Linked DNA regions of Homo sapiens. The protein of the gene in region 1 interacts with the protein of each later gene in a pairwise test. Each region holds a gene or a part of one and is shown in the gene's direction. Other genes may lie near its edges. The genes, in order: OLFM4, CLTRN, TFR2 and AQP3.

Region 1 (7,021 bases):
TACAGATTCATATATGTGAAAAGTTCATATGAATGATTTACTTAAATTAGTAAAGTTCACACTCTGAAGTCTTTCTGGCCCATCCCCAAGCTCTTTTGTGTCTTCTCTAACTCCATGGATGATTGCCATTTTCCTGAACACCACTGAGCATCCTTTAAGTGTCAGCTGAAGAACCTTGAGTTTTTTCCTCAAATGGATCTTTACAGACCCTTCATTTTGTCTGCACCAGGGCAGGCACACCACACATTTTTATAGGTAACAAACTCCAGAATATGCCTTGCTTTTTTTTGTGAAAATCTAGGAGAACCACATTTTATTTAGCAGAGATGACAGTTGAATCACTCATTTTTGTAGAACAACAGCTGCGATGTGCCACCAAAATGTTCCAGAGAAGCTGAGGGTGTTTCATTTGTTCCAAGAGCTGGCAAGGCCAAATGCCAACAAGCATATTTATTTCTCAAACTTCCATTTCTGTAATGGATTGGCACTTTATTTATTTTTATCATAGTCAAGGTTTTATGCCTGAGTTTTGTAGACACTGGAACCTGGCAGCCCTATATCTGCAGTGCACTTCTCAGGGGGACTTGTTAGGTTTTATATATAGTGAGCCCTCCATAGCCTTGGTTCCGCATCTGCAGATATAACCAAACTCAGATTGAAAAATTTCACGGAAAAAAACTAATAAAAATAACCATGTAACAACAGGAACTATACAAATAAAAAACAATACAACAATGATTTATATAGCATTTACATTGTTTTAGGTATTATAAGTAATCTAGACTTGATTTAAAGTATTTGGGAGGATGTGTGTAGATTGTAGGCAAATACTGTACCATTTTCTGTCAGAGTCTTAAGCATCCTTGAATTTTGTTATTCTTGGGAGGTTCTGAAACCAATCCACCATGGATACTAAGAGGTGGCCGTATATATGTTTTAACCTCCCTATCCACCAAAATATCACCAGCTTTGTCATCCTCCGAGTTATGGTACATCCAATGGCAGTGAGCATCAGTTGCCCGAGGAGATACACTAGCAGTGCCAAGGACTGTTTTTTCGACTTTCATTAAAATCCTTTTTGCCTGAAGCCCTAGCCCTTCAGGTCTGTGGTCTATGAGTCTACTTTAATTTGCACAATGGGGTTAAGTGGAAGGGCTGAAATGACAGAAGTTAGGATTGCTTTTGGTATAAGAAGGATTAAAGGCCAACATCTGGCTCTAAATTCATCCAGGCACTGTGGATCAGCTACTTGATATTAGTGTAGTTTTGGGAAAAGTATCACTTCAGTTCAAATTTTTAAAAAGCATATAAAGCCAGCAACTTATTTAATGAGCAGGTCCTTAAAAAAGCCATGGCATTTTCTTTAGAGATCAGACACAGAAAGAACCACCAACTGTGTTTATTAAAATATCCACTTGGATATTCCAATTATACACTAAACTGCCAAGGGAATTTTTGGAAGTATTTTAACTTAATGATCAGACATTCAAATATATGCAACAAATCTGTAATTTAAAGGTCTGATTGCAATAATCAGTTCTTGGAATAAATGTGGGTGCACTTAATGAAATGTGTACTCTACAGGGCACACACACTCACATATTGTGTAGTAGGTTGGATCTCTATGCCACTTTGTAAAAGGCAGAGGGGATCAAAACTAATTGTATATGGCGATCAAAGAAGGAATTCGGCATAGCGCATTTCTCCCTTCTCCAGAAAATACTTAGATGTAGAGCCATGTTTCTAAATGGAAGGAGGGTGGTGTTGGCCGTGGCAACGATTTTGTCCCCAGGGAACATTTAGCAATGCCCAGAGACATTTTTGGTTATCATAACTGGAGAGTGGTTGGATGCAACTGGCATGAAGAAGCCAGGGATGCTGCTTAATATTGTGTAATTCACAGCACAACCCCCACAAGAAATGACAATCCAGTCCCAAATGCTAACAGTGCTGAGGTTGAGAAACAATTAGAGTAAGTGTGTTGAAGGGAGGAGAGATGGCAAGAGACTATGATACAAACCAGTTTAGTTTGGGGAGTTAATGTCTTCAAACATTAAAATGGAGATTAAGAAAAAAGGGCTCAATATCACTTGATCATTAGAGAAATGCAAATCAAAGCCATAGTAAGATACCATCTCATACCAGTCCAGAATGGCTATCATTAAAAAGTAAAAAAATAACAGATGCTGGTGAGATGGCAGAGGAAAGGGAACATTTATACACTGTTGGTGGGAGTGTAAATTAGTTCAGCCATTGTGGAAAGCAGTGTGGTGACTCGAAGAACTAAAAAGAACTATTATTCAACCTAGCAATCCCTTTACTGGGTATATGCCCAAAGGAATATAAATTGTTCTACCATAAAGATACATGGGCGTGTGTGTACATTGCAGTACTATTCACAATAGCAAAGACATGAAATCAACCTAAATGCTCATCAATGGTACACTGGATAAAGAAAATATGGGCCATATACACCATGGAATACTTTGCAACCATAAGAAAGAATGAGATCATGTTCTTTGTAGGAACATGGATAGAGAGCTGGAAGCCATTCTCCGAAGCAAATTAACACAAGAACAGAAAACCAAATACCACATGTTCTCACATATAAATGAGAGCTAAATGATGAGAACACATGGACACAAAGAGGAGAACAACAGAAGCGTACTTGAGGGTGGAGGGTGAAAGGAGGGAGAGGAACAACAACAAAAAAATCTATTGGGTGCTAGGTTTAGTACCTGCGAGACAAAATAACCTTTACAACAAACCCCCATGACATGAGTTTACCTATATAACAAACCTGGGTATATACCCCTGAGCCTAAAACCTTTTTAAAAAATGGAGATTAAAATATACCTGCAAATGATGATGCTGAAGCAAAATTATGTTTAGCCTAGCAAAGTATAAAATCTACCTCCCTTCAATTGGAGTAATAAGTTCTTTGTATATGGATAGATTTTAAAAATCTAGTTAAATGTATTTTTGATCTATTTATTTACAAAACACAATGATTGGCAAGAATCAAATAGTTCTCAACTCAAGGGCTCGGTAGTGGAAGAAGATGGTGTGATACTACTCAGGGAATTGGCTTGAACCTTTTGATTTTCTTTCAGGTGAGGGAATATGTCCAATTAATTAGTGTGTATGAAAAGAAACTGTTAAACCTAACTGTCCGAATTGACATCATGGAGAAGGATACCATTTCTTACACTGAACTGGACTTCGAGCTGATCAAGGTAGAAGTGAAGGAGATGGAAAAACTGGTCATACAGCTGAAGGAGAGTTTTGGTGGAAGCTCAGAAATTGTTGACCAGCTGGAGGTGGAGGTAAGGAGTGAACTCACTTCTTGGTAAATTAATAATAAACTCCCTTCAGTGACTGTAAGCAAGTACTAGTACCAGGAAGTGAAACTATCTCTTCCAACTTCTAATTCTCTACTGTCTCATGGCCACATGGCATATCACTATGTTCTGTTTTGGATAAGGGCATGTGTTTGAATAGTAAGTTAAGCACATTGGGAATGTGCTGACTTAGGAGCAGATGTTGTCTAATGGTCAGAATCCTGCCCCAGAATAAAATGCCCTTTCAACTTCTCTGAAAAGGAGCTGGCATAAAGTTGAACAACGGTTCATGGCCAAGCTATATGAGGTGTCTTCTCTGCTCTAGATTTATCCTCATGGAACTAGAAATCCACAATATACCTGATTGTGGTAAAATTGCTAGGTTTGTTTCTCCTTTTGAATAACCTGGAATCCTTCTCTGCAAACTGGAAACCCCCTTTAAGAAATTTCTTGTATATTTCTGTAAAGCCTTTTAAGATCTGTGGATAAAGACCATCACATTAACGTTATGGTTGGGTAATTTATATCAACAAAAATTTACTAGCACAGTCATGACATGGGCTATAATTGAGAATTCTAGTTACGTATTTTAGAATTTAAGCTTTCTCTGGCCCTCACCATTCATTAGAATCTTAATTATAATACAACATGAGTAAACACAAGTTTATAGGGGAAGGTTATTAGAAATGAACTTTAATGGACATTTGTGGATGCTGAGGATGAGCTTGGGCTCTATTATTAAAGCTATTAAAATCTTTGCCATTTTCTTCTTGTCACACACATCTGCCTGAGATCTGACAGGCATTCATGCTAAACCATAAAATGTATTCTTCCAAATGAAACCATTCAGAAGAATCTCTGGTGTATTCTCTGGCAATGTTTCACTAAATGACAAATTCAGCCCTGGAATGTTTATGAAAGAAATTGCACCATAATATAAAGTCACTCTGAATTTTTATTTCCTTAGATAAGAAATATGACTCTCTTGGTAGAGAAGCTTGAGACACTAGACAAAAACAATGTCCTTGCCATTCGCCGAGAAATCGTGGCTCTGAAGACCAAGCTGAAAGAGTGTGAGGCCTCTAAAGATCAAAACACCCCTGTCGTCCACCCTCCTCCCACTCCAGGTAAGCATGCCAGTTTTTTTAACCACTTGTGCCAGACCCCATAAGGAGCTGTGAGTGGGGTGGGGAAGGGATTGGGGATTGCAATGGTGAAAGAAGAAGGTGGGTTGTTTTTTTTTTTTTTTTTTCAGTTCTCAGTTTTCTCTTCCATGTTTTAAAATTCCCTTCCTCCCAAGTATTCTACATGCTATCATATTCTGGGTTTCAAAGAGGAAGAGCACAAACAATGAGTTGATTTAAAGCAAAATCCACGAGTTACACGTATTCTCTTTGCATTTTCTAACAGGGAACAAAAATCTCTATGGTGATGGAGGCCCTATCAGGGGCCTCAGGGGAAAGCCTCTGGAATCTGTGTGTGGCATCCACTTTCCTGTGGAGTTAAGGACTGATTGGCTCACTTATCTGATGAGCTGGGTTTATGCCTTTGATGCTGCCATCTTCTCTCTCTCCTTCTGTTTCTCTTTAATTTTTTCTTTTTTCTTCCTATAAATGCATGCTGAGCACCTGCTATATTGTGTGTCCTGAGATTCAGTGAGGATTAAAGGAATGACCCCACATATCATGTGCTTGTGGGTGTGTCTTGCCATTCCTCATGGATTGTGAGTTCTTGGAGTAGGGGTGGCATGTTCGTCTTTAATGAATTCTCATTGGGGTTAAGTACAGCACAGAGGTGGGTGTTCTGCAAATATACCCATGAACAGAGGCAGTGGAGTGTAGGGTACAAGAACATAGCTTTAGAATTCCAAAGACCTGAGCTTCTCAGCTAGGTGGCTGCAGCAAAAAGGATCCTTAATATCCTCATTTGTAAAATGGGAGAATAATAGTGCCTGCCTTGCAGGGTGGCTGTGGGGATTAATGAGTCAGTGCTTGGGAAGCTCGGAACCTTATGATCGGCACTCACACGCTGGCAATGGATATTGTTAATAATGTTGATAATTGAAGCGAAAGCCTTGCAGCAAAACAAAAGCAGTGCCAGATTACTGTGCCCTGCAATGCATTCCTTCAGGTAAACTAAAGCCTCTCAGCCACAGTGTTCAGCCCCATCCTTTAGAGATATCAATGACACAGGGACCTTCTCTCTGCAGGTCCTGAGCATCTTAGCCTGAGTGGGGACTGTATCTTTTCATCAAATCATGCAATCCTTTTATTTTTATGAATTCCAATCCTCACACCTGCTTTCTTTTAGACTGTGTTTCTGGATTATTGTCATTGTAACTGATTTTTTAAGGCTTCAATTATTAAATAGGTATAGCCATAGATATAAGCCTCTTGGTCTTCTTCAGGTGGATTTTTTTCCTCCCTCTGCAAATAGGAGTGTGTCCTACTATGACAGGTGTCATCTAATGGTTAGAATCCTGCCCCAGAATGAAATGGCCTTTCAACTTCTCCAGAAAGGAGGTGACATAAATTTGAACAACTGTTCAAATTTCGCATCCTGCATAGGAGGTTTAGGGCAGACAACATGGTCTGTCCTCTGTAATAAACTAAGGCTAAATTTAGTCTGGGATTAGTGGTGCAAAAATGTAGCAAATGAGAGCTGTTTCTGGTGGACCACAGAGGACTCACTGAGGCAGAGGCTGAAGCAATGACAACTCCTGATAATCCCTGAACGAGCTCCCCAACACCCCTTGCAAATCCTCCTCATGGAATAGATTTTTCTGGCACAATTTTCTATGCATCCCTTAGAATGAGGACATTTTAGATGAAGGAATATTCAGGGCCATCTAACTTAGCCTCGTCTTGTCTCAGAGGAGAAGACGTGGATGGTAAGAACGCTGCTTTTCCTGAGGCCACACAAGTAGTTAATGACAGAGCAGAAGCTGCAAGGCAAGGGTCTTTGCTCCCTGGTCAGTTCAGGACCGAAGGTGTCAGGCAGCAGTAATCCAAGGACAACGGTGGGGAGAAAATGCATTGCTTAGTATCCAGGGAAGAAAACAAGTGAGCCTGTTGGGTTGTTTTTGTTGGATTTTTTTTTTCCCAGAACTTTCCCCTAGGCCCTCACACTTAGACTTCTGTGATCCATCCTAGCCCAGCTGTGTTGTTTAAGCAAATTGGACCCAGATTTTTACTCACTTTCCCACAACCTTGGCTGTACCTGAATCCCTGCCAAGCCACTTGGCTCTCTTCCAGCTTTGTTCATATTATATTTATGATGTTTATATTAAACTGACTTTTGGTCATGTTTTTAAATCAATTTCTTTCACTTGCTCTCTTTCTGTTTGGATTGGTTGATAATGCAGAATTGGAAAATCCCCAAGCACCACAAACTTGTGAGCCTGTGGAGACTTTAATTAAAGTTATTCTCTATTATGGGACTTTAAAATCTGGCCTGTCTGCTTTTTTCACTGCAGAGTTGCACAGAATAAAAAAGACTATATGCAAGTCTCAGCTCTAAAGTAACTCTGCGCTCTCTGGGCCCCCTCCCTTATAGCTACAGTTTGCTGACCCAGTGGTCAGCTTGAACTTAGAACAAGTGAATGTATCCCAGGTTCAATAAAATATGCTTCCTATTTGGTTTTTGCTACAAACAACGTCCTTTTTCTGCCTCATTTCATA
Region 2 (7,288 bases), on another chromosome or scaffold:
ACCAATATAAATAAGATTTATGAATCAAAAAACAGAAAGAATTGCAAATTATGTCCAAGATCTTCTTCTTTGATTAAACAACAAAGATAATATAATCAAAATGAGAAAATTAATACACGTATTAGAAAATATAAAGAGAACATAACAACAAAAGTAGATATTTTATGGGAAATACTCTATAAAGTCCATGAGGATACTAGAAAATCTTAACAGAATATTTTCTTGGAAATTGTAAACAGCCAAAATGGATTCAGAAAGAGGTATAAAACCTGAAATAAATGATAATGTAAGGAATGAAAAATTTTGAAGAACTCTTCCTCTAAAATGCACATGGTCCAGATTCTTCATCTGTGAACTCTTTATTTCTGGTACATTATATGTATTTCTAAACATAGACAATGTTAGAAATCTTTCTGTATCATTTTCAAGATGGTAAAGGCTAGGAAAAAAAACGCTTCAAGAATCAGCACTTGAAAAGGAACCTACCTGATATTCTTTTAAGAAAATAGGTTTAAAAATCATAGGGGAAAAACCAGGAATTGATTCCAGCAGCATACTAAAAATAAATTAAAAAAATGTTTTATCTAAGAATTGAATCAATGTGAAAAATGTATTAATGTAATACACCAAATGGTAAAAATTTTAATAGTGAAAAGCAGTTGATAAAATGCAACACCAATTACTGAGGAAAATAATTTTTTGTAATTACAAATATAATGCTCGTATCACATGACACATCATTTTTAAAGCCACTTGCCAGATTCCGTGCAGTAGTGGCATTCCTATTAGAGTAAAGAAGAAGACAAGGGTGCGTCTTATTCCCATCATTGTATTACTCTGTTCTGATAGTGCCACTGCAGTGAGAAAAAACAACATCCTACAAGAACATATAAAGAGATCCAAGGCTAAGGAAGGCGCATTCTAACTATGAAAATATATTAGCATTGGTCATCCATTCTGGTAGTATTATGGATGTTTTCTACTTTTTTTTGCTTCTCTATATTGTCTATACAGAATTTCTATTGCTTTTTTCAATCATTTTAAAAATGAGAACACAAATATTGAGAAATCATAATGAAATAAGAGATTGTCTTCCCTTTTCAGATGAATGGCTTACACTGACTGAAACTCAATATTTTACTGTCTTCAATTCTAGTTACATAGATGACTAAAAGCTTATGAAGAAATTTGTCACTTTTAAGAAATGCAAGACTAAAGGAACCTGAAGAAGAATTCTGTGTTTCTACTCTGGGAGCTGAGGCAGGAGGGTTGCTTGAGCCCAGGAGGTTGAGGCTGCACTGAGCTAAGATGGTGCCACTGCACTCCAGCCTGGGCATCAGAGCAAGATCCTGTCTCTATTAAAAAAAAACAACAAACAACAACAAAACACAGTTAAGTTCAACAAAGATGACAAAGCTGCATAATAGCATGACCCCAGTTTTGTTTTTAAGAAGAAATGTACATGTATTTACACAAAAAAGAAAGCACAAGGCAGAAAGATATGTTCCAAATATTTAGAAAACATTGACAATTGGTCATTCGTTGACGCTGATGGAATTACAGGTGATTTTTACTTTTCTCCTTGTGCTGCTTTGTATTTTCTAAAAAGAATTTCTATTGCTCTTTTTGAAAAGATGATACAACAAACATTGAGAAACCATCATTCAAAAGAGATTGTCTTCTCAAATGAATGACTTACACTAAGACTCAGTGTTCTATTGTCTTCAACCCGAGTTACATCAATGACTAAGTAAAAGCCAAAGAAAGCCACTTGATACTTTTATGAAGTGTAAGGCTAAAGGAAAGCTGAAGCAGATTTCTTATTTATTTATTTATTTATTTATTTATTTATTTTTGAGATGGAGTCTCGCTCTGTTGCCCCGGCTGGAGTGCAGTGGCACGATCTCGGCTCACTGCAAGCTCCGCCTCCCGGGTTCAAGCAATTCTCCTGCCTCAGCCTCCCGAGTAGCTGGGACTACAGGCACCTGCCACCACGCCCGGCTAATTATTTGTACTTTTAGTAGAGATGGGGTTTCACCATCTTGGCCAGGCTGGTCTTGAACTCCTGACCTCATGATCCACCTGCCTCGGCCTCCGAAAGTGCTGGGATTACAGGTGTGAGGCACTGTGCCCAGCCGCTGAAGCAGATTTCTATGTTCTTAGCATAGCTTTCTTCCTTGATGTAAGTAAAATGCTTTGTTACAATCTCTATGTGTATTGACTTTTCCTTCCCATGATGACTTTATCTAGTTTAACATTTCCCAAGATGACTTCATCTAGTCTGGCTTTATTTTTTTCAGATGTTAGCTAGGTGAGCTCTTCCTTCTGGAAATTTCCACTGCACCTAATACAGTGACATTGCTAGGATGGCTGGACTAAGTTGTGGCTCCCTCTCCTTTTAGTACAGCTTTTCCTGACTCCGTGTCCTTGCAACCAAGGTGAAGGAGATGAGAAAAAGCTTTCTCAGTTGGATTTAGCTGATGGATGTGGGTCCTTTACAATAAAATACCACCCTCGCAAGGAGGGAGAAATGATGTGTTTCTCAAAGTGCTGCAGAAGTCTCATTGTTGATATTTTCCTCGTTGTTGCTTTGAAAATCCAATGTTTCTATTTAACACCAGAGTCACCCAATCTAATTCTGCCATTCATGACTTTTGAGGAATGGGGTGGAATTTGGGGACTGAATTTATGAAGAGGCAGCATGGTAGAGAGGAAAGTCCTGACATCAACCTCTGGGCGGGGCGTTGATTGGCATCTGTGGAATGCCCACCGGGGAAAGATTCTTTTACACGCATTATCTTAATTCTCAGAGCATCTCTGAGGCTTTGTTGCAACTTCAGGGTTTTTTAAAACTTTTATTTTAGGTTTAGGGGTGGATGTGCAGGTTTGTTATATAAGTAAATTGTATGTCACTGGAGTTTGGTGTACAGATTATTTTGTCACCCAGATAATAAGCATAGTATTCGATAGGTAGTTTTTCGATCCTCTCCCTCCTCCCACCCACTATCCTCAAGTAGGTACCTGTGTCTGTTGTTCCCTTCTTTGTGTCCATGTGTACTCAATGTTTAGCTCCCACTTATCAGTGAGACTGTGGTATTTGATCAATTCCAATTTTGACCAATGGTGACCAGAGACACAGAGCAGTTGGGTGTGGTGGAGACAGGGTTCAAGTGTAAGTCAACCTAGCTGGTAAAGTGACACCCATCCCACTCATCCCATTGCTGCCAATGACTTCAACGCTGGAGCCTCAGTTCCCTCCCGTATGAGATGATGATAACAATTGTGAAGTGTCTGAGGATCAGAGAAATAACCCAGTGAAGGTACTTCAGAGTGGGTAACTTTTAATTACTGTTGTATTGCTGTACTGACCAATGTAGTCAGTAGCCACATGTGCCTACTTAAATTAAATTAAACAAAAATTCCATTTCTCAGCTACACTAGCTCCATTTCCAGTGCTCAATGGCCTCCTACCTGTAGTAGCTGCCATATTGGATAGTACAGACACAGAACATTCCCATCGCCACAGAATGTCCCTTGGACAGTGCTGCTCTGTATCATTAACTTTGATTTAATTCAAGTGCCAGACCTCAGGGCTGAACACAATCATTCCCTATGTGTGAATGTGCAGGCACCTGTGCAGTTTTGTTGTATAGGTAAATTGTGTGTCACTGGAGTTTGGTGTACAGATTATTTTGTCACCCAGATAATAAGCATAGTATTCGATAGGTAGTTTTTCGATCCTCTCTCTCCTCCCACCCTCTAACCTTAAGTAGGTAAGAGGAAGCTCCGAAGCTCTCCTGGGATGTTCACCCGCTGTGGTGAGAGTCAGGTGAGGCCCTTCACGGAGGGCACCCTTTGTTTACCAGAGAGAAGGGAGTCACGTTTGTTTCCTGAATGAAGATAGCCTATCTAAGAACCAGGTATCTCAGCCTCGAAAAGGTGGGAAGTGCATGTCAAGGAAACCTCTAGACAGGACTCAATTCTTCCCATCATACACGTAACCAGAGAATCGCAGAAGGGGTCGGGGAGGATTCCAACTTTGAGTCAGCAAAGAAGACATTCTTTTGAGGTAGAGTCAGAGTAGGGAAAACAACTAATCTGTTTTCCAAACAGGTTTTCATAAATAACTGACAGGAGATGGGCTGTTTTTATGGAAGTATTAACCCAAATGATGGGTGTTAATCATTAAACCTTTTTGGTGGTGGCTCGCTTGTTTCTCTGATATTCTAATCCGGGTCACAGAATGGCTAAGGCAGATTTAAGTGCAGCGTGGATTTTTTTTTTCTCACTTTGCCTTGTGTTTTCCACCCTGAAAGAATGTTGTGGCTGCTCTTTTTTCTGGTGACTGCCATTCATGCTGAACTCTGTCAACCAGGTATGTAGCCTTGAAATTTAAAAATAGATGAACAGTTTTCTACATGTTTGACAAGTCATCGACTGAAAGAACTCTTTATTTTTCTAAATCTGCAGACATGTTGTGGCTTGAAAGTTGGGGCAGTGAGTGTTTAATGAGTTTGAAAGAAAATATTAAACCATCTAAGATGATTTAGGTTAAACTTCCAGGAGTATTTGGGGCTGTTTAATTGTAGTTCTTTGTTCCATTAGTTTGAGTTGCATTACATATTAGGATTTTTCAGACTCTGTTTTGGCAGATCCTAATCATCATATACTGCTCTTTCTTTTTTCTTTTCTGGCAGGTGCAGAAAATGCTTTTAAAGTGAGACTTAGTATCAGAACAGCTCTGGGAGATAAAGCAGTAAGTGGAGCACCTGAGTGTTCTTTTTAAATTTTGTTTGCTAATAACACTGTGCTTTCTCTAATAATGGGCCTGTCTGCATAGTTACCTTAATCTTGAATAAATTATTTCTAAAGACCTCAAATCTGATTTCTTAAAGATAGATTATAGAATAATATGAATTTTTAATAAAGTAGGTTTGCCTAAAGTATTTAATCAGTAGTGTATGCTAGGCAACATGTGAAGTTTTGTGCCACACAAAACAACTTAAAAAACCAGCATCTCAACTCGGGATAGTGAAGCCAAGTGGCCTGAGTCAGTCGTTCAGGTCTGGACTGGGTCTACTCCTCACCGTTGTGGTCATTTGAATTTTGTTAGCCTCGATTTTCTACCATTGAAAATAAGGGATAGTTCTACCCACATAAAGTCTTTCATAGCACAAAAAATTTCCAATTTGAACCTGAAGTTTCTTCAATTATTCTCAATTATCAAAGTAACATATGAAATATATGCTTATGAAATAGAAGTTTAAAAAATAGTCATAGGGCCCATGTGGCTATAGGAATGGTAAAGATCATTGAATTAAAAAGACAGTATTGTCTAATTCTAGTTTCAGTTTCCTAGTGTGGTCTGCAAAATTTTTTCCCCAATAGAAGGTGACGTTAAGATGCCTTAGGCATAGAAACAGAAAAAAGAGTGCTAAAGAAACTTAGAGGTATTCTGTTTGCAGGCCAGTTCATCAATTTGGTATTTTATTATTGACTCAATGAGTAATGATTGTTATAACAGCCAGCATTTATTGAGAACTTATCTTACTTTCTAGCTGGGGCTCTTCTAAGCACCTTACTCCTATCAAATCATTTAGCCCTCACAACAATGCTTTGAGGAAGATAGTAGTACAGGTATTAGTATTCCCACTGAATGGATGAGAAAACTGAGGTTCAAAGAAATTAAGTAACATGCTCAATATTTCAAGTCAGCAAGTGGCAGAAGTAAGATTTGAGCCCAGGCAGTCTGAGTGCAGAATACACTGTCTCTACTAGTGTGCAGGGTTGGCCATCCCAGTATCCTCTAATAGCAGGTACGATGCTGAATGCTGGGATGTAATGGTGATTAAGGCTTGTCCTTACCCTTGTGGAGCTTATAGTAGTAGTAGAATTGGTCATCTATTAAATATTCAGTAAACCAAATGCAAATGTGCAATCTTGACAAGTATTACGGGAAGAAGTACAAGGGCACTTCGGCTTTGTCAAGGCCCACAATACCTGGCACTTACTGTGATGTCTGAAGCATGAGTTGAAGTGTTACAGGAAATGAAAGAAGGAAAGGCAGAGGGAACAGCATGTGCAAAGGCTTATCACAGGAAGGATCTTGGTGAGAGTAAAGATTAGAAAGAGGGCAGAAATATCTGGAATTGGGGCAGTGAGGAGGAACATGGCAGGTGATGAGCTTAAAGAGAGAGGAGCAGGCAGGCCAAGGAATATGTGGGCTGTGTTAGGGAGTTTCATTTTGAGATGTAGGGAGGGTTCAAGAGCATCAAATGCCGTTGAGAGGCCAAGCCAGAAGGCGACTGAAAAATGTTCATTGTGTTGGACAATATGGAGGTCAATGGTGATTTTAGAAAGAGCTCTTTTCGTGGGGTGGAGGAGCTGGAAGACAGATAGTGGGGAGTTAAAAAATAAATGAGTGGTGAACATGTTGAAACAGATGTGTGGACAACTCCTGGGAGAATTTTGGCTGTGAAGGGCAGGAAAGAGATAGCAGTAGGTAGAAGAAAGGAAGACTGAGTAAAATGATTTGTTTTTGCTGTTGCAAAACAACAGCTCTTTGCTATGGCTTTAATGAGAAAGTCTTGAGCTTGGTTAAAAGACAATGAACAGACTCCGGTCAGAGCTAAATACACAGAATGGAGGGGAACTGATATTGTTTAGATCTGAGAAGGGCAGAGGAGAAGCATTCCTAATATAAGTGACGGAAATGGCCTCTGATAGGCATAGTTCTGTCTGGCACTTCAGGAGAGGAGGCGGCTAAGACGTGTCTATGGAGGAAGTGTTGTATCTTGATGTCAGGAGGTTGGGAGAGTTGAAATTGATGAGATGTATCTATAAATTATGAAGCAAAACCATTTAGTGAGAGTGAGGTTTGAGGGAAACCATTGGGAAAAATGGTTAAAAAAAAAAAGCATTGACCATCAGTTCTCTCTCTAGAGAGAGGTTTGAAATAGTTATGTGACCCATGAGAAAGAGAACTGATGGTGAAACCTTAGGGATTCCCAGGCAATTTGGGGGTAGGTCATCATGAATTTAGAGTTAAACCAACTAACCCTGTTCTGTAATTGTCTCTAGTTATACCAGTTACTTACCTAAAATGTGGGGTTAGCCATGGTTTGAGTGTTCTTAGATGTGTGCAAAAAGCAAGGTGAGCTGGGGCATTTAAGGTCCTGGCACATGTTATTGAAATGAGGAACCAAGGAATCTAAACTGATAGATAAATATATGCAATTAATTTGTACCATTTGGTCTGTGAAGCCACACGTGGCATATAAAGATGTGT
Region 3 (7,021 bases), on another chromosome or scaffold:
ACCTCCCGGGTTCAAGTGATTCTTCTGCCTCAGACTCCAGAGTATCTAGGATTACAGGTGCCCCCCCACCACGCCCGGCTAATTTTTGTATTTTTAGTAGAGGGTTTCACCATGTTGGCCAGACTGGTCTCGAACTCCTGACCTAGTGATCCGCCCATCTCGGCCTCCCAAAATGCTGGGATTACAGGTGTGAGCCACCATGCCTGGCCGGGACCCTGACTCTTTAAAAAAAAAAAAAAAAAAAAAAAAAGTGACTCTTCTGGATGGACACAGCCTTTCTCCAGGGTCTACTGTCTGGCAACTAAAGTTCCCACTGGATTGCACACCTACCTCAGCTGAGAACCATCCAAGGCAGCCCTGACTGCACTGCCCTACCCAGGCAGCGTCCAGAGGCAGCGATCTGGAGCCAGAAAGGGTGGGAGGGAAAGAAATAAGGAAAAGAGTGATTTGGACTCTTCTGGGTCTCTCTACAACTTCCCCCTTTCTGCCTTCCTCCTCTCCAGGAAGCTCAAAGGCCCTGTGGCCCCCCAAGAATGGCAGGGGAGCCTCCTAGGCTCCCCTTATCACCTGGGCCCCGGGCCACGACTGCGGCTAGTGGTCAACAATCACAGGACCTCCACCCCCATCAACAACATCTTCGGCTGCATCGAAGGCCGCTCAGAGCCAGGTATGCTGTGTGTCCAGTATCACTCACAGCTGGTGGTGGGCTGGGGGAATTTCTGCCCATACACCCTGGCAAGATAGGGGGCTGGTGCAGGAGGCCCCAAGAGGGGACAGGAGTGGTGCCCAGAGGAGGGAAGCTGGCAAGTTGAGGCTGAACTGGGTCTGATGGTGGCAGCAGTGAACAGACCTCACCTTCCAGCCTGTCTAGTGATGGAATGGGGGTTGTTGCCCAGTAGTGAGCTCCCCAGCACTGGAAGTGAGTAAGCCTAAGTTGGATGATGTTGTAATAGAAACTCAAGCATGGGCCGGGTGTGGTGGCTCACGCCTGTAATCCCAGCACTTTGGGAGGCCCAGGCAGGTGGATCACTTGAGGTCAGGAGTTTGAGACCAGCTTGGCTAACATGGTGAAACCCCGTCTCTACTAAAAATACAAACATTAGCTGGGCCCGGTGGCATGCATCTGTAATTCCAGCTATTCCGGAGGCTCGGACAGGAGAATCACTTGAACCCAGGAGGTGGAGGCTGCTGTGAGCCGAGATTGTGCCATTGCACTCCAGCCTGGGCAACAGAGCAAGACTTTGTCTCAAGAAAAAGAAAAAAAAGAGAAAGAAAGAAAGAGAGAAAGAGAAAGAAAAAAAGAAAGAAAGAGAGAGAGAGAAAGGAAGGAAGGAAGGAAGGAAGGAAGGAAGACTCAAGCATGAAAGAAAGATCAGATCAGATTAGATAGAAGCATAGATGGCCCTTTCAAGCATAGCTAGATGTGGATGGCAGTGGAGAATTAAAATAAGTAATTGACAGATGGGGCAACAAAGCCAAGACTTCACAAAAAATTTAAAAATAAGAGAAATTGGCTGGGTGCGGTGGCTCACGCCTGTAATCCCAGCACTTTGGAAGGCCGAGGTGGGCGGATCATGAGGTCAGGAGATCGAGACCATCCTGGCTAACATGGTGAAACCCTGTCTACTAAAAATACAAAAAAATTAGCTGGGCATGGTGGCAGGCGCCTGTACTCCCAGCTACTCAGGAGGCTGAGGCAGGAGAATGGCGTGAACCCGGGAGGTGGAGCTTGCCGTGAGCCAAGATCGTGCCACTGCACTCCAGCCTGGGCAACAGAGCGAGACTCCAAAAAATAAATTAAATAAATAAATAAGTAAGTAAGTAAAAGAAATTAGCCGAGCATGGTGGCACACATCTGTGGTCCCAGCTACTTGGGAGGCTCAGGCAGGAGGATGGCTTGAGCCAGGGAGTTTGAAGCTGCAGTGAGCTATGATCACACCACTGCACACTCCAGCCTGGGTGACAGAAACCTTGTAAGTCCAGAATGACCTCAGGCACCCAGCTGAAGGAGCACACCATCCAGGAAGGGCCAAGTGGGGAGGGGCGCCCTCTTTAGGGACTGGAGGGACTGCAGGGCTAGGGTTGCCGGAATTGTGATGGGCTGAGAGACACAGGCAGATGGAGGATGCCCCCAGGGTGCAGGGTGCAGTGTCAGAAGTGGGTCCCAAACATCCCCTCCCCAGATCACTACGTTGTCATCGGGGCCCAGAGGGATGCATGGGGCCCAGGAGCAGCTAAATCCGCTGTGGGGACGGCTATACTCCTGGAGCTGGTGCGGACCTTTTCCTCCATGGTGAGCAACGGTAAGGTCAGGGCCAGGGCCTGGGCCTGGGCTAGGCAGCGGTGGGCCTGTGGCCCGAGGAGGATAGGGCAGAGAGGCAGTGAGGGACACAGACTGGCCAGTGGTCACTTGGACCTCGGCATCCACATTGTACCTGAGTGGCCCTGGGCCAGTCACTTCACCTCTATTTCGTCACCTAAAAATGAAAGTGAGGCCGGGTGCGGTAGCTCACGCCTGTAGTCCCAGCACTTTGGGAGGCCGAGGCAGATGGATCACCTGAGGTCAGGAGTTTGAGACCAGCCTAGCCAACATGGTGAAACCCTCTACTAAAAATACAAAAATTAGCCAGGCGTGGTGGAGGGCGCCTGTAATCCCAGCTACTAGGGAGGCTGAGGCAGGAGAATCGCTTGAACCTGGGAGGCGGAGTTTGCAGTAAGCCGAGATCGCACCACTGCACTCCAGCCTGGGCAACAGAATGAGCCTCCTTCTAAAAAAAAGAAAGAAAAGAAAAGAAAAAAAGTGACATGAATGATAATCATAGTCCATGGGTCTGTGTCAAGATTAAGCATGTTGGGCTGGACGTGATGGCTCATGCCTGTAATCCCAGCACTTTGGGAGGCCAACACAGGAGAATCGCTGGAGACCAGGAATTCAAAACCAGCCTGGGCAACATAGGGAGACTGCATCTCTACAAAAGTTTTTTAAAAATTGGCTGGACTTAGTGGTGCATGCCTGTAATCCCAGCTACTTGGGAGGCTGAGGCAAGAGGATGACTTGAACCTGAGAGGTCAAGGCTACATTGAGCCATGATTGCACCACTGCACTCCAGCCTGGGCGAGAGAGTGAGATCCTGTCTCAGAGAGAGAGACAGAGAAACAGAGACCCTGGGGGACCAGGACAGAAGAAGACAAGGGGAGGGTCTTTGCTTGGCCCCTGCTAAGCCTGTCCTCCTTCCCCTCTGTCCCCAGGCTTCCGGCCCCGCAGAAGTCTCCTCTTCATCAGCTGGGACGGTGGTGACTTTGGAAGCGTGGGCTCCACGGAGTGGCTAGAGGTGATACGGGGTCCCGGGCAGGTCGTTAGGCATTGGGGAGAGGTGGGGGTGGGGGGTTCCCACTCCACACTGGTCACCCACCCACAGGGCTACCTCAGCGTGCTGCACCTCAAAGCCGTAGTGTACGTGAGCCTGGACAACGCAGTGCTGGGTGAGCTGGGGCAGTGCCACCACCTGGCCCCCTGGGGTCCACCCTTGCCTCTGGGGCTGAGCCCTGAGCCTGGCATCCCTCCCCTCCCCTTTTTCCAGGGGATGACAAGTTTCATGCCAAGACCAGCCCCCTTCTGACAAGTCTCATTGAGAGTGTCCTGAAGCAGGCAAGAGCACCCCAGGAATAGGGGGTGAAGGGGAGTAGGTTGCGGGGAGGAGCAGAGCCTGATCAGTGCCCTTCCCCAACCCCCAGGTGGATTCTCCCAACCACAGTGGGCAGACTCTCTATGAACAGGTGGTGTTCACCAATCCCAGCTGGGATGCTGAGGTGTAAGTTGGGGGGGTAGGGAGAGCTGGGGAGGGATGTGGGGGAGCCTGAACCCACAGATCGCTCCAACCCACCTGCCCCCAGGATCCGGCCCCTACCCATGGACAGCAGTGCCTATTCCTTCACGGCCTTTGTGGGAGTCCCTGCCGTCGAGTTCTCCTTTATGGAGGTGAGACGTCCTCCCCCTGCCCCAGACACAGCGCTAGTCCTTCAGCCTGTCTGCCTCCGCCCCAGCGTCCACCCTGTCCTGGCAGGACGACCAGGCCTACCCATTCCTGCACACAAAGGAGGACACTTATGAGAACCTGCATAAGGTGCTGCAAGGCCGCCTGCCCGCCGTGGCCCAGGCCGTGGCCCAGCTCGCAGGGCAGCTCCTCATCCGGCTCAGCCACGATCGCCTGCTGCCCCTCGACTTCGGCCGCTACGGGGACGTCGTCCTCAGGCACATCGGGAACCTCAACGAGTTCTCTGGGGACCTCAAGGTTCAAGAGGCCCACCCCGCTCTTGGTCTCTGGGAGTGGGAGGCACTGCCCAGGCCAGGGGGTCCAGCCCCTTCTCTCTGCATTCCCTGGGGTCTAGGTCCTCTCTGGCAATCCAGCCCATTAACCCCCTGCCTCCAGTCTCCCAGCCCCCAGCATGTGCCATCGCCCAACCTGGCAGGTGCAGGATCTTCTCCCCACTCCCTTCATCCTGCCTCCAGCACTCTGTCCTCGTCTACCTCCTCCCTCCTGCGGCCAGGGGTCCCAGCCCCCTTCCCCATGCTAGGCGGGGGTCCTTGTCCCCATGCTAGGCGGGGGTCCTGGCCCCTGCCGCCAGCCCCAGCCCGCGCCTCCCCACCCCAGGCCCGCGGGCTGACCCTGCAGTGGGTGTACTCGGCGCGGGGGGACTACATCCGGGCGGCGGAAAAGCTGCGGCAGGAGATCTACAGCTCGGAGGAGAGAGACGAGCGACTGACACGCATGTACAACGTGCGCATAATGCGGGTGAGGCCCCGCCCTCCTCGCCCCGCCCCCAGTGTCCCGCCCCTCCCCTGGGGCTCCACCTCCTGGACCTGGCCCCGTCTGCGCGCTCCTCTCTCTCCCCGCCTACACAGTCCCGGTCCTCTGGATGCTCTCTTCCCAGTCCTGGACACGCAGTGCTCATAGATCGGTCAGGCTGGAGGACCCGAGCGATCAAAGTGATGAAATGGACAGGGAGGGCCAGCCTCTTGGCCACAGTCGCCTGGTTTACGCCTGGCAGAACTGGGACAATCCACCCTCCCCCACCCCTCCCCGCTGACTCCCCTCCTATAGCTCCCACTGCCTCCTCGACCCTTCTGGAAAGAAAAAGCATGTCCACACTGGTCCACAATACGAGGTTACAGGCTGGGAAGTGCAGAAGGCTAAAGATATTCAGAGTAAGAGAGCTGTTTTCCTTCTGATAATGAAATGGGTGAAATCCAGAAAGGCTGCCTGGAGGAGGTGTCACGTGAAAGTTAAACAAGAGCTTATTCCCTCACCAATCCCTTCTGCTTAGCTTTGAATCCTTTGCAGCCCACACCCCACCTCCAGTTCCAACTCCTCCACTTCCTTCCATTTTCTTACTCCAAGAACTCAACCCCTCAACCCTTTGATGTCAAGAAATGGGTGAGTAGGGACTGTGGCCATGGGGAAAGGTCTGCAGGGCAAAATAGTAAACAGGATCATCCTCAATGAGTGTGGGGTGAGCTGGGAACTGCAGTGTACACAGAGCCACTTGTGCACACACACTCACGGTTTTCAGAGCCAGCATGGCTACCCCTTGGAGGCTCATGTTATCTCTCCTCCTTGCATTTTCCTGCTTGTGCCCTCTGCCTGTCCCCCTTGGCCATTTACAAACCTATTGCTCTTGCTCGTTCTCCCTTGCCCAGACTAGAGTGCAGTGGCACCATCTCTGCTCACTGCAACCTCCAACTCCTGGGCTCAAGTGATCCTCCCACCTCAGCCTCCCTAGTAGCTGGGAGTACAGGCACGTGCCATGACGCCCGGCTAAATTTTTCTATTTTTTGTAGAGACAGGGTTTTACCATGTTGCCCAGGCTGGTCTCAAACTCCTGGCCTCAAGTGATCCTCCTGCCTCGGCCTCCCAAATTGCTGGGGTTACAGGCGTGAGCTACTGAACCTGGCCTTCTCCTCTCCTTCTTATATCTCTTTCTCCATTCATTCTTCTTTAACCTTTGCCTCCTCTACTGGAACAGGGGTGACCCTGGGGTGAGGCAATAGGTTGGGTATGGTTCATTCTCATTCACAGATCTTGGTTTAACCTCAGCTGTGTCAGCATGCAGAAGACAAAAACACCCACCTTTCAAAGTTGCCATACCCCTGTCCCCACCAGGGATAAAAGGGACCTGCGTGTAAGATGCATGACTTAGGCCAGGCACGGTGGCTTACGCCTGTAATCTCAGCACTTTGGGAGGCTGAGGTGGGCGGATCACCTGGGGTCAGGAGTTCGAGACCAGCCTGACCAACATGGAGAAACCCCGTCTCTACTAAAAATACAAAATTAGCTGGGCATGGTGGCACACGCCTGTAATCCCAGCTACTCAGGAGGCTGAGGCAGGAGAATCACTTGAGCCTGGGAGATGGAGGTTGCAGTGAGCCGAGAGCACGCCATTGCACTCCAGCCTGGGCAACAAGAGCGAAAATCCATCTCAAAAAAAAAAAAAAAAAGAAAAAGAAAAAGAAAAAGATGCATGACTCAGGCTCAGGGATGGAGAGGGAAGGACTCAGGACTTCAGAGCCTGCAATACAGGATTGGGCCAGACCCAGTGAATTTTATGGCTCTAGACCAGGGGTTGGTGAACTACTGCCCATTGGCCAAATTCAAACTGCCGCTTGTTTTTTTGTTTTTTTTTTTTCTGAGACGGTCTCACTCTGTTGCCCAGGCTGGAGTGCAGTAGCATGATCTGGGCTCACGGCAACCTCCACCTCCCGGGCTCAAGCAATCCTCTCACCTCACCTCAGCCTCCTGAGTAGCTGGGACTACAAGGACACACTACCACACTCCGCTAATTTTTAAAATTTTTTGTAGAGATGGGATCTCACTATATTGTCCAGGCTTGTCTCAAAATCCTGGGCTCAAGCGACTCTCCCACCTCAGCTTCCCAAGGTGCTGGGATTACAGGCGTGAGCCTCTGCTCCCTGTTTTTGTAAATAAAGTTTTATTGAAACAGCCATGCTTATTGGTTTTCACGC
Region 4 (7,980 bases), on another chromosome or scaffold:
AGGGGGTGGGGAACAAGGACATTGAGACCCAGCCCTTGTTCTGCTAGCTAAACCATGTGCCTTGGCATGCAGCTGCATTGACTGGAGGGGGTTGCAAAGATACTCTATGGTGAGCTGCAGTCCAGGATTATAGATAGACACATACATGCATGCATACATGGGTGAGTACAGGTAGCTGCATATGTATAAATAAATGCTGCTCAACGTATATAAGACAGACAAATCCATAATTGTGTGTGTAACTAGCTACTTCCTGGTGCAGCCCACGAGAAAACCCATGTGAGGTGAATGCAGACAGATGTGTGTGCAGGTTGCTTTTTTGTTTATTTGCTTTTTGAGACGGAGTCTGTCTCTGTCGCCCAGGCTGGAGTGCAGTGGTGCGATCTCTGCTCACTGCAACCTCAGCCTCCTGGGCTCAAGCGATTCTCTGGCCTCAGCCTCCCGAGTAGCTGGGATTACAGGTGCCTACCACCATGCCCGGCTAATTTTTTTTTGGCGAGGGGATAGAATTTCGCTCTTGTTGCCCAGGCTGGAGTGCAATGGCACGATCTCGACTCACTGCAAGCTCTGCCTCCCGAGTTCAAGCGATTCTCCTGCCTCAGCCTCCCAAGTAGCTGGGACTACAGGCGCACACCACCACACCTGGCTAATTTTTGTATTTTTAGTAGAGATGGGATTTATCCATGTTGGCCAGGCTGGTCTCGAACTCCTGACCTCAGGTGATCCATCTGCCTTGGCCTCCCAAAGTGCTGGGATTATAGGAGCAAGCCATCGTACCCGGCCTAATTTTTGTGTTTTTAGTGGAGACAGGGTTTTACCATGTTGGCCAGGCTGGTCTTGAACTCCTGAGCTAAAATGATCTGCCTGGCTTGGCCTCCCAAAATTCTGGGATTACAGGCATGAGCCACTGTGCCCGGCTCCAGGCCAGGTTCCTTTTTTTTTTTTTTTTTTTTTTTTTTGTGATGGAGTCTCGCTCTGTTGCCCAGGCAAGAGTGCAGTGGCGCCATCTTGGCTCACTGCAAGCTCTGCCTCCCAGGTTCATGCCATTCTCCTGCCTCAGCCTCCCGAGTAGCTGGGACTACAGGCGCCCACCACCACACCCAGCTAATTTTTTTTTATTTTATTTTTAGTAGAGATGGGGTTTCACCTTATTGGCCAGGATGGTCTCGATCTGCTGACCTTGTGATCCGCCCACCTCAGCCTCCCAAAGAGCTGAGATTGTAGGCGCGAGCCACCATGCCCGGCCTCCAGGTTGCTTTTATAAGGGAAGAGGAAAAGAAATAAAAAATAGAAGTGTGTGTAGTGTCTGCTGGTGAAAGAGCTTCCCCTGTTTTTCTCCCCTGCTCTGGTTCCCAGGCTAGATTTGGATGCCAGCAGACCCAGGATGGGACAGGGTGACAATGGGGTGTTGTGGGCTGGGTTTCCCTATTTTCTTTCGGTGTTGAGGAGTCCCTTGCCAGTTTCTGCCCTGTGCTGCCTTTGCAGCTCCACTTGAGGCAGGGATGGGCTGGATGCATATTATAGGGTGGGAGGAAAAGGGGGCAGCATGGCAGGGGTGCTCTACCACTCCCATAGCCTGTGATCTGGGCCCTGGCACCAGGAGTCTATGGTTCTGTCTTGAGTCACAGGCTGGCAGTGGGGCCAGAGGGCAGGTACTCAGTGATGGCTCCCTGATTCACCACGGGGCCTCCCAGCCTATAGAGGCCTGGAGGGTAGGGTGCATCTTTCTGGGTCAAGGGTCATTAGAGTCCTCATGTGGGGGTTCTATATATGTGTGAGCCCATGGCGAGGCTCTCATGTGAATGGGATCCCTGATCATGGGAGCAGAGCTCAGTGTCTATAGGCAAGTGTGTGACTGCAAACCACAGGGTGTGTGTGTGTGTCTGTGTGTTTGTGTGTGTGTATGCGCAAGCACCTGCATGTATGTGAATCTACTTCATGTGTATGCTAAACCCATCTCTTTGGGCATGAACCACCTCTGGGACTGGGAGCCCTTATTTCCTTTCTTTTCTTTTCTTTTTTAACATGCCTATCTAGGCCAGGTACGGTGAATCATGCCTGTAATCCCAGCACTTTGGGAGGCCGAGACGGGTGGATCACCTGAGGTCAGGAGTTCGAGACCAGCCTGGCCAACGTGGTGAAACCCCGTCTCTACTAAAAAAAACAAAAAACAAAAAACAAAAAAATTGGCTGGACATGGTGGTGCATGCCTGTAATCCCAGCTACTCGGGAAGCTGAAGCAGGAGAATCGCTTGAACCCAGGTGGGGTGATCTTGGCTCACTGCAACCTCTGCCTCCTGGGTTCAAGTGATCCTCCTGTCTCAGCCTCCCGAGTAGCTGGGATTACAGGCATGTGGCAGAGGTGGTTGATGCCCAAAGAGATGGGTTTAGCAATACTCATAATCCTACAATCCAAGCACTCTAGGAGGCCAAGGTGGGCAAATTGCTTGAGCTCGGGAGTTCCAGACCAGCCTGGCCAACATGGCGAAACCCCTTCTCTACAAACAATACAAAAATTAGCCGGGCATCGTGATGCATGCCTGTAGTCCCAGCTATTTGAGAGGCTGAGGTGGGAGGATTGTTTGATCCCATGAGCTAGAGGCTGGAGTGAGTCATCATCCATGTTTTTAAGAGCTTGTTTAGCTTCTTCTGCTACCTCTCCTGACACAACCTGTCCACTTGAAGGGTCCATGCCTATCTGTCCTGAAATGTCAATGGTCCTGTCACCTAACATAGTTTGACTGTAGGTCCCAGTGGCCCCTGGGGCTTTCTTGGTGCTGATCACATTTCTGATCAAGGACGACAGGACTAACCCTTCTCTCTTTTGGTCCCTCTGGGAGAAGAACCTCTGCACTAGCCCTGCTCGCTTCTCAATGAACCGTGGGAGCCCTTTTTTTTTTTTTTTTTTTTGAGATGGAGTTTGGCTCTTGTTGCCCAGGCTGGAGTGCAATGGCATGATCTCAGGTCACTGCAACTTCCGCCTCCTGGGTTCAAGTGATTCTCCTGCCTCAGCCTCCCGAACAGCTGAGATTACAGGCACCCGCCATCACGCCCGGCTAATTTTTGGTATTTTTAGTAGAGACAGGGTTTCACCATGTTGGTCAGTGTGGTCTTGAACTCCTGACCTCAGGTGATCTGCCCGCCTCGGCCTCCCAAAGTGCTGGGATTATAGGCGTGAGCCACCACGCCCAGCCGGGGGCCCTTATTTCTCATATTCGTCCCTCAAGGGACAAGTCCTCAGGGTCATTAGCCCACCTGGATTAAGTCCCTCTGGAAAATGATTTCTTTGATCTCCTCTGGCAATGCTGCCATAGAAGCTCAGCCTAAGGGCATGTTGTTTGCTCCCAGGCCACCAGATGTTTCCTTGTTATTAAAAGCAGCATAGAGGGCAAGGTTGCACTTCGGGAGGCCGAGGTGGGAGGATCGTTTAAAGCCAGGAGTTTGAGACTAACCTGGGCAACATAGCAAGACCTCATTTTTACAACAGATTTTTAAAAATTAGCTGAGTGTCATGGTGGCACATAGTCCCTATAGTCCCATCCATTCTGGAGGCTGAGGTGGGAGGATCACTTGGGCCCAGGAGTTCGAGGCTACAGTGAGCTGTGATTGCACCACAGCCTGGGTGATGGAGCAAGACCCTACTCTTTAAAAAGAGAGAGAGGGCAAGGTTGTCCCATGATCCCCCTCAGATAGGGCTGACTCCCCCATAATTAAGTTTGCTTAAAGAGGCAGACTTGCTGGGCTCAGTGGCTCACGCCTGTAATCCCAGCACTTTGGGAGGCTGAGGCGGGTGGATAACTTGTGGTCAGGAGTTCGAAATCAGCCTGGTCAACATGGTGAATCCCCATCTCCACTAAAAAAACAAAAATTAGCTGGGCATGGTGGTGTGCACCTGTAATCCCAGCTAATCGGGAGGCTGAAGCAGGAGAATCACTTGAACCTGGGAGGTGGAGGTTGCAGGGAGCCGAGATCACGCCATTGCACTCCACCTAGGCGACAGAGAGAGACTCCGTCTAAAAAAAAAAAAGAGACAGACTCTTCCTTGGCTGGGGGTAAGTCAGATGGGAGAGGAGAGGGTTAAAAACAGCTGGGACTCAGCCTGCTGGCAAACATGTGGCATGTGGCATGTCGGGGCAACTGCAGCTCAGCCTCTGGAGCCATGTGAGCAATGCACGCAGGTACACGTGTGACAAGCTAGGTCACCTAGCCATGTTCAACAGGCATGTGCACAGCCACGAGGAATGCCCAGCCGTACAATTAGGCACACAGGACATCCGCCATGTGTAGACACAGCTGTGGACATAGCTGGCCAGGACATGCGACACACGACGTGCTCATAGCACAGGGAGAAGGGCCCATGAAGTCTGGTTGGAACTCAGCACGTGTGTCTGTGTGCCCACCTGAGTCTGGACTGCTGCCCCTCTGACACTAGCTGTCCCCTTGAAGGGTCGGTGCCTTATCTGTCCTGACAGAAGAGACAGTGTTGCTTCTCACTTGGGGCTCGCAGCCTCCTCCTCCTGCCTCGAACTGAGGATCTGTTGGGTCCAGTCATCCTGGAGAGATGCGGCCAGTTTCTTTCTGACAGGTCTCCTCCTGCCCGCAAGGAAGTGGGGTGATCACAGGGCGCAGGTGGTCTCTATGACAGCTGCATCCTCTCCAGCCATGGCCCTGAACCCTGCCTATAATCCCACCATTGGCTCTCAGATCTGCCTAAGCCTCTCAGCCCCCTTGACGTCCCCTCCCTTAAGCGCCCTCCGAAGGCCACCCGTCCCTCAAAGCTCCTCACACTCCATGCCCGCAGCTCCCTCCACCCGGCGTCCGCACCAGCCTCCCAGCCGAGGTGGGGCGGGGGCGAGGGGGCGCGCACTCCTCGGCGCTCCGGGACTGCAGGGCGGGGCTGCAGGGCGGGCGGGGCCCGTGTCTCCAGCGCTCCTATAAAGGGAGCCACCAGCGCTGGAGGCCGCTGCTCGCTGCGCCACCGCCTCCCGCCACCCCTGCCCGCCCGACAGCGCCGCCGCCTGCCCCGCCATGGGTCGACAGAAGGAGCTGGTGTCCCGCTGCGGGGAGATGCTCCACATCCGCTACCGGCTGCTCCGACAGGCGCTGGCCGAGTGCCTGGGGACCCTCATCCTGGTGGTGAGTGGAGGGAGCCGGGGAAGCCCTTCTCTCTCCAGCCCTTGCACTCCCCAAACTCTCACTTCCCCGAAGGGGCTGTGTTTTCCAAGGTAGCCTGGACCCACCTCCCCAGCTGTGACCCCCACGCTTAACCGCGGAGGATCAAGCTGACTTCCAAAGTCCTCTTCCCCACGGTTCTAACCCCCTCTCTGACAGCTCCGACTCTTGCCAGAATGACAGCTGTTACTCCCCAGTGATAGTGCCGATCGTTTACCCTCCCACAAGTGACTCAGCCAACAGGCTGGGGGCAGCGGTCACGCTTGCAGTCTGGGACAGCCAGCCACTTCCCCTGCCTCCCACACCCCTCCAGATTCCCAGAATCCCAGCCCCCAGATGTAGGGGAGGGGGCGGAGGCAAATGAGCCATTATTAGGTTATTTGGGTCCTGGGTGTCTGGCCTCTAATGAATAATTAAGCCTCAAAAAGTCCAAAGGTTGAAGTGAGTGAGGACAGTTTGCACGAGTGGGGGCAGAGGGTGCAGGCCACATGGGCTGCGAACAGCGAAGTGGGAAGGGAGGCAGATTCTGACGGTAGAAGGGTGGGAGGAAGCTAGGCCCAGGCACAGAGGACGCGTGTCTAAAGTTGCTCACCTGGTGCTCAGCGACTCCCAGGCCCTGTCTGTTATCCAGACAGATGCTGTCAGCGTCTGTGCAGAAGACGACAAGCATTCTGGTTACTCCCTGGCCTCTTGGTTACTCTGTGGGTTCTCTGAGTGAGCATTTCCCTGCCTGAGTTACTCCTCAGTCCTAGTTACTCCTTGGTCACACCAGTTTCACCCTGGTTTTGTTCTGAGTGACTCTGTTTGCACTTCTTAGGTCTGGCAGACCCACCAGTTATGTTCTATTTCCTGTCCCAGTTACTCTGATTTTTCAGCCGCTCATGTGGTTACACCTGTTTTCCTCTGTGTTCAGTTGCTACATTGCAGTGAGTGGGTTACTCCGTTCCTGCCCCAGCCCTGGGTAGTACAGACCAGCTGGCCCACTGTGGACTAGGAAGCCTAACTAAGGGCAAGTAGGGATCCCCAAATGGTTGAGGATCAGGATCTATGGGCAGAGGAGGGCTGAAACCCACTTCTGGCTTCCAAGAATAGGAAGTGGGGAAGCCACAGGGGGCATTTTATCCACAGCCTCCCATAAGATTAGTCGTCCTATCAGCCAGCCCTAGCCCCTCTCTCCTGTGCCAAGAAGGCAATAGGAGGTGGCCTTTATCACTCTCCTGCCTCGGAGCCCTCACTCCTATCGGAGTCCTGAGTCCAGCCACCTGTTTTAGAGCAGCCAGGCTAGGGGAGGATGATGTCTTCTATTTTCCTAGAGGGGCCTCCTCATTCCCTCCCAAGTCTCAGTTCACTCTCTCACAAAGGAGCCGTTAGTCCTCCCACTGAGCCCCAGGATCATCAGGCTTATCCCAGACCACAAAAGAAGAGTGTTAAATTTTAGGGGAAGGGTTGCAGACTCAGATGGATGTGAGGTATTGGATATCAGTGAGAAGCAGAACTTCAAGGACTGCATGAACTGGAGGGGCAGGCCTGGGGATCCCTTTGTAGTGGGTGAGTGCCTGCCTGCCTACCTGCGTGTTGGGAGCCTAGGCCTGCAGTGGCAGAATCAGGGTTGGCTTTGGGGTGAGGAAAGCCCCTTTCTCTGAGATACCTGGTGTGAGGGCAGGGGGCGGTGCTGGCCGAGAACTCAGGGCAGGGGTTGGGGGAGGAAGAGGAAGATTAGCCCCAAGGTGGTGGAACTGGCTCTGACAGCTCCTCCCTCCAAGGCGTCCTGGGATGGAGCCAGGTCTGAGCCTTTGGCAGGCAAGGAGCTGCTGCCAGGGCCTCCCAAGCAGGGCAGGGCGCCTCAGACCCTCACGTGCCTGTCTCCCACCACCCCTCCTCACACATACACCTGCAATCTCTGATCTTTGCTCTCACCTGCCTGCACACCTTTGCCCCATGTCATTGCCGCTGGCTTCTCCGTTATCTCTTGGTCTTTCTGGGATGATAATCAAAATGCTTAACTATCCAGTACAACAGGCACTGACCCGTCAGAATAAACAAGGTCTGTAGCACAGGTCCTGGAAACTGCCTGCTCTGTGGGCATAAAACCTTTAGTTATGGGCAGGTGGGAGAGGAGACCAGGGCAAGGCATTGGAGCAGCTTTGAGGGACACTCAGGGGGCTCAGGGCAACAATGCTTTACAGCTGCTGCAGAAGTATTTTCAGGCTTGAACAAGGGGAACAGACATAGTACGTTCTTTTTCTTTTTTAAATAGAGACAAAGTCTCACTATGTTGCCCAGGCTGTTCTCAAACTCCTGGGTTCAAGATCCTCCCATCTCAGCCTCCAAAGTGCTGGGATTACAGGTGTGAGCCACCACAGCTGGCTCCAGTATGTTCTATATTTGTAGAACACCAGGGCTCTTAGTCTCTTTTAGTTCCCCCATTTTTGGCAGAAAGTTTAGAACCGATCTCCCCATTTCTACAGCCCTGGGTCCCGGGCTGGGGATAGTGAGAGGAGCCACACAGATCCCTGTCTGTAGGACCTCCAAATCTGAGTGGGGAATCTGGACCCCTGAGAGCAGAGAGGTCATGGGTGGAGAGAGGAGACGCTGGGACAGGGACAGGTAAAGGAAGGGGAGGTTGTTGAGGGGGACATGGTGAAGGCTGGGGCTCTGGCATCCTGGACTCAGGAGAAGTGGATTCAACCTCACTTCTGGTCTCCTCCCTATTTATTTATGCCGCCCATTGCCACCACTACCACCACCACATGAGCTTTTCTTTTCAACTCTTTTTTTTTTTTTTTTGAGATGGAGTCCCGCTCTGTC

Evidence for each region.
Region 2: the proteins of OLFM4 (region 1) and CLTRN interact in binary tests that used the Homo sapiens proteins (3 or more experiments, as listed by UniProt).
Region 3: the proteins of OLFM4 (region 1) and TFR2 interact in binary tests that used the Homo sapiens proteins (3 or more experiments, as listed by UniProt).
Region 4: the proteins of OLFM4 (region 1) and AQP3 interact in binary tests that used the Homo sapiens proteins (3 or more experiments, as listed by UniProt).

What each region holds. Positions count from the first base shown.
Region 1 is NC_000013.11:53,038,797-53,045,817, forward strand, and holds part of OLFM4 (olfactomedin-4 precursor), read left to right. Parts: intron 1-3,113; coding exon 3,114-3,326; intron 3,327-4,308; coding exon 4,309-4,468; intron 4,469-7,021. UniProt on the Homo sapiens protein: May promote proliferation of pancreatic cancer cells by favoring the transition from the S to G2/M phase. In myeloid leukemic cell lines, inhibits cell growth and induces cell differentiation and apoptosis.
Region 2 is NC_000023.11:15,661,805-15,669,092, reverse strand, and holds the start of CLTRN (collectrin precursor), read left to right. Parts: upstream 1-4,287; 5' UTR 4,288-4,317; coding exon 4,318-4,375; intron 4,376-4,697; coding exon 4,698-4,756; intron 4,757-7,288. UniProt on the Homo sapiens protein: Plays an important role in amino acid transport by acting as binding partner of amino acid transporters SLC6A18 and SLC6A19, regulating their trafficking on the cell surface and their amino acid transporter activity.
Region 3 is NC_000007.14:100,624,535-100,631,555, reverse strand, and holds part of TFR2 (transferrin receptor protein 2), read left to right. Parts: intron 1-330; exon of another isoform or gene 331-400; intron 401-503; coding exon 504-667; intron 668-2,183; coding exon 2,184-2,303; intron 2,304-3,249; coding exon 3,250-3,332; intron 3,333-3,419; coding exon 3,420-3,483; intron 3,484-3,581; coding exon 3,582-3,649; intron 3,650-3,735; coding exon 3,736-3,812; intron 3,813-3,894; coding exon 3,895-3,979; intron 3,980-4,064; coding exon 4,065-4,292; intron 4,293-4,652; coding exon 4,653-4,793; intron 4,794-4,805; exon of another isoform or gene 4,806-5,206; intron 5,207-5,325; exon of another isoform or gene 5,326-7,002; intron 7,003-7,021. UniProt on the Homo sapiens protein: Mediates cellular uptake of transferrin-bound iron in a non-iron dependent manner. May be involved in iron metabolism, hepatocyte function and erythrocyte differentiation.
Region 4 is NC_000009.12:33,444,579-33,452,558, reverse strand, and holds the start of AQP3 (aquaporin-3), read left to right. Parts: upstream 1-4,965; 5' UTR 4,966-5,028; coding exon 5,029-5,136; intron 5,137-7,980. UniProt on the Homo sapiens protein: Aquaglyceroporins form homotetrameric transmembrane channels, with each monomer independently mediating glycerol and water transport across the plasma membrane along their osmotic gradient. Could also be permeable to urea.